2 linked regions of the Homo sapiens genome follow. The protein of the gene in region 1 interacts with the protein of each later gene in a pairwise test. Each region holds a gene or a part of one and is shown in the gene's direction. Other genes may lie near its edges. The genes, in order: FSBP and PLCG2.

What was found.
Region 2: the proteins of FSBP (region 1) and PLCG2 interact in a two-hybrid assay, tested with the Homo sapiens proteins (one large-scale study listed by IntAct).

What each region holds. Positions count from the first base shown.
Region 1 is NC_000008.11:94,430,386-94,434,074, reverse strand, and holds part of FSBP (fibrinogen silencer-binding protein), read left to right. Parts: intron 1-1,418; coding exon 1,419-1,944; 3' UTR 1,945-3,689. UniProt on the Homo sapiens protein: Transcriptional repressor that down-regulates the expression of the fibrinogen gamma chain. Represses transcription of GSK3B gene promoter via its interaction with APBA1.
Region 2 is NC_000016.10:81,785,791-81,789,615, forward strand, and holds part of PLCG2 (1-phosphatidylinositol 4,5-bisphosphate phosphodiesterase gamma-2), read left to right. Parts: intron 1-152; 5' UTR 153-199; coding exon 200-392; intron 393-3,825. UniProt on the Homo sapiens protein: The production of the second messenger molecules diacylglycerol (DAG) and inositol 1,4,5-trisphosphate (IP3) is mediated by activated phosphatidylinositol-specific phospholipase C enzymes. It is a crucial enzyme in transmembrane signaling.

The sequences.
Region 1 (3,689 bases):
TTTGGAAATAATAAAATGACACAAACAGAGACAAGAACAAAAATGAATTTATATAACCTACAAATAGATTTTTTATTATATACTATATATGTTTCATTTTGTCTCTTAGATAAATATCTGATATTTCTGGCAATTTAATGGCATTAGTAAGTAACGTATGGGTAGTTTTAATCTTTTTCTATGCATTCTGCTTGAACTTGTTCCAGCATTTTAATCATCCATGTAGAATGTATTCTTTTAATTATGTTTCTTATTATATGTAAAATCTTCTCTAAATAATATTAAATAAAGTATTTCCATTCATGTTCAATGATCTAATTTCCCTTTATAACTTTTATTTTTAAGTTAGGCAGAAGCATAAATTAAAAAAAACAACCTCAAGGAGCAGATATTCTTAATTCACAGCTTCACGTTATACATAAAATTATGTTTATAAAACAGAATTTTAAGGTTTATTGCATTTATAATATCATAACTTGTTATGCTGAAGCTTAAATTATGCTAAAGCTGTAGTTGTCTCCATTGGGAATGCATATTTGGTGGAAATTATGTGTAAATTTAATAAACCTTTAATATATCTGTATAGGCCATTAAAAATGTTTCATTAAAAAATCATTTAGTTTGTTTTTTTTCAGTCATTCAACACATAATGAGCACCTACTAGGTTCTAAGTACAGTACCTGCTAGGTACTGAGTATACAGTTGTGGATTAAAACCATTGCTCTTGTGAACTTTACCTGACCAGTGATTGAAAGACTTAAACAGCATCTGAGTCATATGGTTCAGAATAGGTAAAACGGAAGTTTTTCCTATCAGATAAAAGCATCTGAAATAAGAAAGTTAGGATAACCTCCAGTAGTTGAGCATATCCCAAAGCCATATACAATCTTTATGTTTTATTTTTTGGGCAAATGCAGAAATCAGTACCTCCCATAGATGGCCTTTCACTGTCCTTTTATAAGTTATGGGCCTTCATGGTTTTAAGATCAGTCCAGGAGAGCAGAAGCCTGAGGTCTAGGGCTAAGGTATGGGGATAACAAGACTGAGAATGCATTAAATGGCTCTGTACACCATTTGAAAACCTTAGGGTTGTGGGAAAGATTGGTGTCTGTTTGACAACATGAAAACTGGCTTTTCTTTTTATTTTCTTCATTGGCCTTCTATAATATTTGTAATTTCCTGCTCCTTTAAAGCACAATTTTAAAGTTAAGGATGGGGGAGATCTGTGAGTATGTATTATTGAAATCCCAATCTTAGTCACTTTAATGTATTTCAAGTGTTTAAGATTTTTTTTTATTTTGTAACTTTATAGTTTTAAAGCTTTATCATTTAATGTACATTAAATTAAAATTATGCTATAAATATACACTTTTTCTTCATTTGATTTACATATTATAATGCTTTTTTGTGTGCTATAGTGCAAACTTGGATGAGGAGGCACAGGCTGGTACCAGTTCACTACAGGTAATGTTGGATCACCATCCTGTTGCTATTACAGTGGAGGTGAAGCAAGAAGAAGACATTAAACCACCTCCTCCACTGGTTTTAAATTCTCAACAGAGTGATACTTTAGAGCAAAGAGAAGAACATGAATTAGTACATGTTATGGAAAGATCCTTGTCGCCTTCACTTTCCTCTGTTGATATGAGAATGACATCGTCTCCATCTTCTATTCCAAGGAGAGATGATTTTTTTCGGCATGAGAGTGGTGAACACTTTAGGTCACTATTAGGGTATGATCCTCAGATCCTGCAAATGTTGAAAGAGGAGCATCAGATAATTTTAGAAAATCAAAAAAATTTTGGATTGTATGTTCAGGAGAAGAGGGATGGATTGAAAAGAAGGCAGCAGCTAGAGGAAGAGCTACTAAGAGCAAAAATTGAAGTGGAGAAGCTGAAAGCAATTCGCTTACGGCATGATCTACCTGAATATAACAGTCTCTAAGTTTTTTTTTCAATCTTGCAATTTGATAATTTTGATTTTGGCCAAATTACTTTAATTTGGGAATATCCTGAAACAGAATACACGTTCTTGAAAAATGTTGTTAATCTCTATTATGGAAAAACTTTTTAGATATAATTTTCTAATTATTTTCTTTTGAGATATTAAAATTTACTGGTTGGTTGGCATGGTTATAGTTTTTATTGTCTTCTTTTTTTTTTCCCTAAGTTTAATTGTTGACCTTACAAAAGATATTTTATTCTGATCACTAAGATATACACAAATGCATATACAAACACATATTCTTTCAAAGTTCTGAGTCTTCAACATTTTTAGTTAGAACTTTGAAAGCTATAATTAGAGATTTTTAAGTCAGTCTAATTTAGGAGCTATACTAACCTAATACCAAGAAGCTTGTCTGTATGACATTGGTTTTTATGCTTTTATCTTTTGAAGGAGTAAATCCTAGGATTTTAGAGATGGAAGATATTTGGAGAACACTTTTTTTCCATCTCTGCAGTTTAGGGGTAATGAAACAGGTCCAGGGAGAACTCAATGACTTACTTAGGGTAACAAAGCTATTTATGGCAGAGCAGAGACCAGCACTTAGTTTTTCTTTGTGTAATTTCCATCCCGCTATTCGATAGAAGTAAATATCCACTAAAACATTCTCTAGATTTAAATATTAGAAGCATTTCTTTCATTAAAATTGCCTTTAAAGATTGTTAGGTTGTGAAATCAGGATAATTACATCAATTACCCCCATTCTCTCTCTATTTTTGTTCCAGCAAAATAGATAAGGTATTCCATTGAAGCTATTATATATTTTGGCTGTGTGATTTAAAGACATGTCTTAATTCATTTTGAATGTCCTGTTCTGGAAAAAATTTCTTTCACAGTAAAAATCAGAATGAACAAAATTAAAATTTTATGTATTTTATAAGTATTGTTATTTTAGTATTCATGGAAATAAAACCTCAATTCTTAAAGCATACATATTAAATTTATATTAAATCTCTAATATGTATGTTACTTAAGAATTTCTATTTTTGCTGGGGTTTTGTTGAGAAGGGATTTTTAAGCCAAGTTGTAGAATGGGGTGGGTGTAATTTCAGCAGTGAAGGGGACCATGGGTGTTTGAAGTCAAGAGTGAGACGCTGGAAAAAAGACAAAAGAATGGGAAAAAGTGGATTGAGTATATAAGCACAAATGCAGTGCTAAGCCATTGATTTTAAGTGAATGTAGAGAGAGTCAATTTGGGCTGTAGTATCCTGGACTAGGAAGGACATCTCCCTGGACTAGGTAGGGTAGCTGCTGTTTAGCTCCAGCAGAATTTTCACATGCGGGGATAAACCAGAAATCTGCATTTTTTAATGAGGAATCTTCCAATTTTAAAATGTTTGCAAATAACACAAAATGCTTTTAAAACATTATACAGACAACATGTGAGTGGGCCTCACTGAGCCATTGGGCTTCCACTTTGTGGCCTTTGGAGTAGACCAATGGTTTTCCAAGTATGGGTCCTGACCAGCAGCATCAGCATCACTTGAGAACTTGTTAGAAATGTAAATCCATTTCCAAGTGAATTAGAAACCCTGGGGGTGTCAGCAATCTCTTTTAATAAACCCTTTAGCGATTCTGATGCATGCTAAAGTTTGAGAACCAGTGAAACAGAGTATTTTGGAACCTCGCTTGGTGCCTAAATCATACTAGTCTCAAAATTTTTGTCGAAGAGTAGTTGAAAGTGA
Region 2 (3,825 bases), on another chromosome or scaffold:
TGAGTGGCCAGCGATGCCTTGCCACTAGAACCTTCTCCTAAAACTCATCCTGATTGACATGAGACAGGATTTTGGTTCCTGAAGTTCATGCCCTGTTAACTAAACCCCTTTCAGTACTAAAATCAGTTCACTCTTTAATTCTGCCCTTTCAGCTTCCTGATTTCTCCCGATTCCTTCCTTCTCCCTGGAGCGGCCGACAATGTCCACCACGGTCAATGTAGATTCCCTTGCGGAATATGAGAAGAGCCAGATCAAGAGAGCCCTGGAGCTGGGGACGGTGATGACTGTGTTCAGCTTCCGCAAGTCCACCCCCGAGCGGAGAACCGTCCAGGTGATCATGGAGACGCGGCAGGTGGCCTGGAGCAAGACCGCTGACAAGATCGAGGGCTTCTGTGAGTACTCGCTGGGTGGGGCAGTGTGGCCCGTCCTCTGGGGCCCTGGCCTGAGCACCTGTCCACCTTCCTGTCTTGTCATTACTGTGATTGTTGTTGGTTTGATGTGTTCTTTTATTCGTCTTAAAATGAAAGCATTGCCAGTTTGTGTGGATCTCTGATGAGGTTTACACCAGGTGGAGGAAGTTCAGCTGGGAAAACTCTGGTGAAAGAACTGAAGCTGAGGTCAGCCAACATGGAAATGGCATTCAGGCAGCTCTCCTTGCCTGGTGGTTCTGTGCCCTGTCTGACAGCATCAGGGATCGTCTGGTTCCCACAACTGGTCGAGTCATCTTTCCTCTTAAGGGCGAATTAGCCCAAGCCTGCAGAAACTCATAGCTTGGTCGCCAAATGCTACCTTGTTTTACTGCATACCATAGCAGTGAGGGGCCTTTGCTTTAGTCTCCAAGCAGGGAGAGTGAGTTGTTGAACGTTTTGTAGCTTTCAAATGCAGGTCTGGTCTTGGTAGAGGTGTCCCTCCTCCCCTACCTCCGTTTGATTGGGCAGCTGGTTCAGATCCTAAAGTTTCTAAGACTGTTTTTAACAAATAGAGTAAAGGCACTTAAGCAATTTTCAGTTGCAAATATTTGCTCTAATTTGTGTTTTTAAATTAACTAGTTTTTAATTGAAATATATATTCCTGGGGGTTAAGGAGTCAACTCAAATATTTCTCCTCCCTAAACCATCCTACTGAGGCAAGCTCATTACCAGTTACTTTTATCTTCCAAAATAGTCTATGCTTGCATAATGTGTGGGTTTAAAAAGAAAACAATTGGGAACTCTTGTACACTTCTGCACCTTGACTTCTTTTTGTTAATTAATAATGATGTTGGCGGTGGTTTCTTATCAGCACACATTGATCTCATTCTTTCTTGGACACATGACATGTAATGGCACAGGCCTCAATGTAACAGTTTAACTCCAGAGAAGGGCATTTCATGCTATTTCCAGGCTTTTGTTATTATTCGAAGTGACTATCATTGTACTCTTTTTTTTTTAAAACAAAATTAATTTTTTTGAGACAAGGTCTCTTTCTTTTACCCAGGCTGGAGTGCAATGGCATGATCATGGCTCACTGCAGCCTCAGCCCCCTGGGCTCAAGTGATCTTCCTGCCTCAGTCTCCCAAGTAGCTGGGACCATGGGAATGCACCGCCATGCCTGGATAATTTAATTTTTTTTTTTTTTTTTTGTAGAGATGGGATCTCACTATGTCCAGGCTTGTCTCCAATTCCTGTGCTCAAGTGATCCTCCCTCCTTGGCCTCCCAAAGCATTGGGATTACAGGCATGAGCCACCTCACCCAGCCTTGCACTCTTTTTTTTTTTTTTTATAATAGATTGATTGAGACATAATTCACATAGTATACATAGAATTCACCCATTGTATGCAGCATGTATAGTGTGGTGGTTTTAGTATATTTATATAAATGTGCAAGCACCACTCCAATCAAAAGTAGAACCTTTATATCACCTCAAGATGAAACCCCATACCTTTCACCATCACCCCATCCCCTCATCCCCCCTACCAGACGTAAGCAACCGTTAAATTTAATTCTGTTTCTATAAACCTCTCTATTCTGGACATTTCATAGAAATGGATCCTATGTATGTGGGCTTTTGTGACTGGCTTCTTTGACTCAGCATTTTTCAAGGTTCATCCACTTTGTTGCGTGGATCAGAAATTTTCCTTTTTGTGGCAGAATCACGATACGTTGTATGGGTATTCCACAGTTTATTCAGTCATCTGTTGACGGACCCTTGGGTTGTTGCCACCTTTTGGCTAATATAAATAGTGCTGCTAAGAATGTTTCTCTACAAGTTTTTGTGTGGATGTCTGTTTTTATTTGTTTTGGGTATATACCTAGGAGTGGAATTGCTGGGTCATACACTAACTCAGTTTCATCATTTTAGGAACTGTCAGACTGTTTTCTAAAGTGGCTGCACCATTTATATTCCTTCCAGTGGTAGAAAAGGGTGATCGTTGCATTATTCTTCATTTGTATATATGGGTATATCTGAAGGACAGCTTCCTGAAGGTTTATTTCTGAGCTGAAGGATATGGCATATATATATTTTAATAGACAGAGTCTCGCTCTGTTGCCCAGGCTGGAGTGCAGTAGTACAATGTCAGCTCACTGCAAGCTCCGCCTCCCGGATTCATGCCATTCTCCTGCCTCAGCCTCCCGAGTAGCTGGGACTACAGGCGCCCGCCACCACGCCCGGCTAATTTTTTGTATTTTTAGTAGAGACGGGGTCTCACTGTGTTAGGCAGGATGGGGGTATGGCATATTTTAACTTTAAAGGGAAGTTTGGCAGCACCCCACAAAAGAGGTTGCCCCCACTGTCTGTTTCAGCCACAGGATGTAAAAGTACCTGTTGCCTGAACCCTCATCTATGCTGCGTGGCTGCTGAACTTGGCCATCCACAGGTAGACTTTGGTAGCTTGGTGTCATCCTTAATTTGATGTATCCTATCATGAGTGTGATCAAACTGCTTTCTGAAAGGCTTTTCCTGGTTTTGGAGCCCAGTGGGTCTCTTGTGGCACAGAGCCAGAGCCCTGCTTTGGAACTGCCCATGTGGAGGTGGCCATCTTCCCTCTTGACTGTTTGCATTGGCCGGCTCCACCCCCAGGTGGCCCAGAAACCTGTTGCAGCTGGGGTGGCCACCCTCCCTTCCCCCACAAGGGGTGAGAGGGTTGGCACTGATGGTAAATACAGATGGGCCACGTTGAGACTGGACTGCAGGTTGTTCCTTTCTCTTCTCAACCTGCCCATCCCAAACCTAGCTGCCCATCAGAAACACCCAGGGGGGATCTTGTAAGTATAGGGTATTAACCATGGCATGTGTATACACCTGTGTAACAAACCTGCATGCTCTTCACATGTATCCCGGAACTTAAAGTAAAATAAAATAAAATAAATATATACAAAAAAGAAATTACAGGGTATTAGAACCTTCTTCTGAAGCTCATTGTGATGGGCATGAGACAGGATTTTGGCTTGAAATCTATGCCCTGTCATTCTCCCCTTCTGCTGAGTAATACCATTTCACTCGCTTACGCGGATGCGCTCTCTCGCTCTCTGTTTTAGAGACAGGGTCTTGCTCTGTTGCCCAGGCTAGAGAGCAATGGCCTGATCATGGTTCACTATAGTTGTGAACTCCTGGGCTCAAGTGATCCTCCTGCCCAGTCTCCCAAGTAGCTGAGACTACAGGTGAGTGCCACCATGCCTGGCTGATTTTTTAACTTTTGTGTAGATAGGGTCTTGCTATGTTGCCGAGGCTGGTCTCCAACTCCTGGCCTCAAGTGATCCTCCCACCTTGGTCTCCGAAAGTGCTGGGATTACAGACAGGAACTACCATGCCCGGCCTCAATTCATTCTTTTATTTATCTGTTC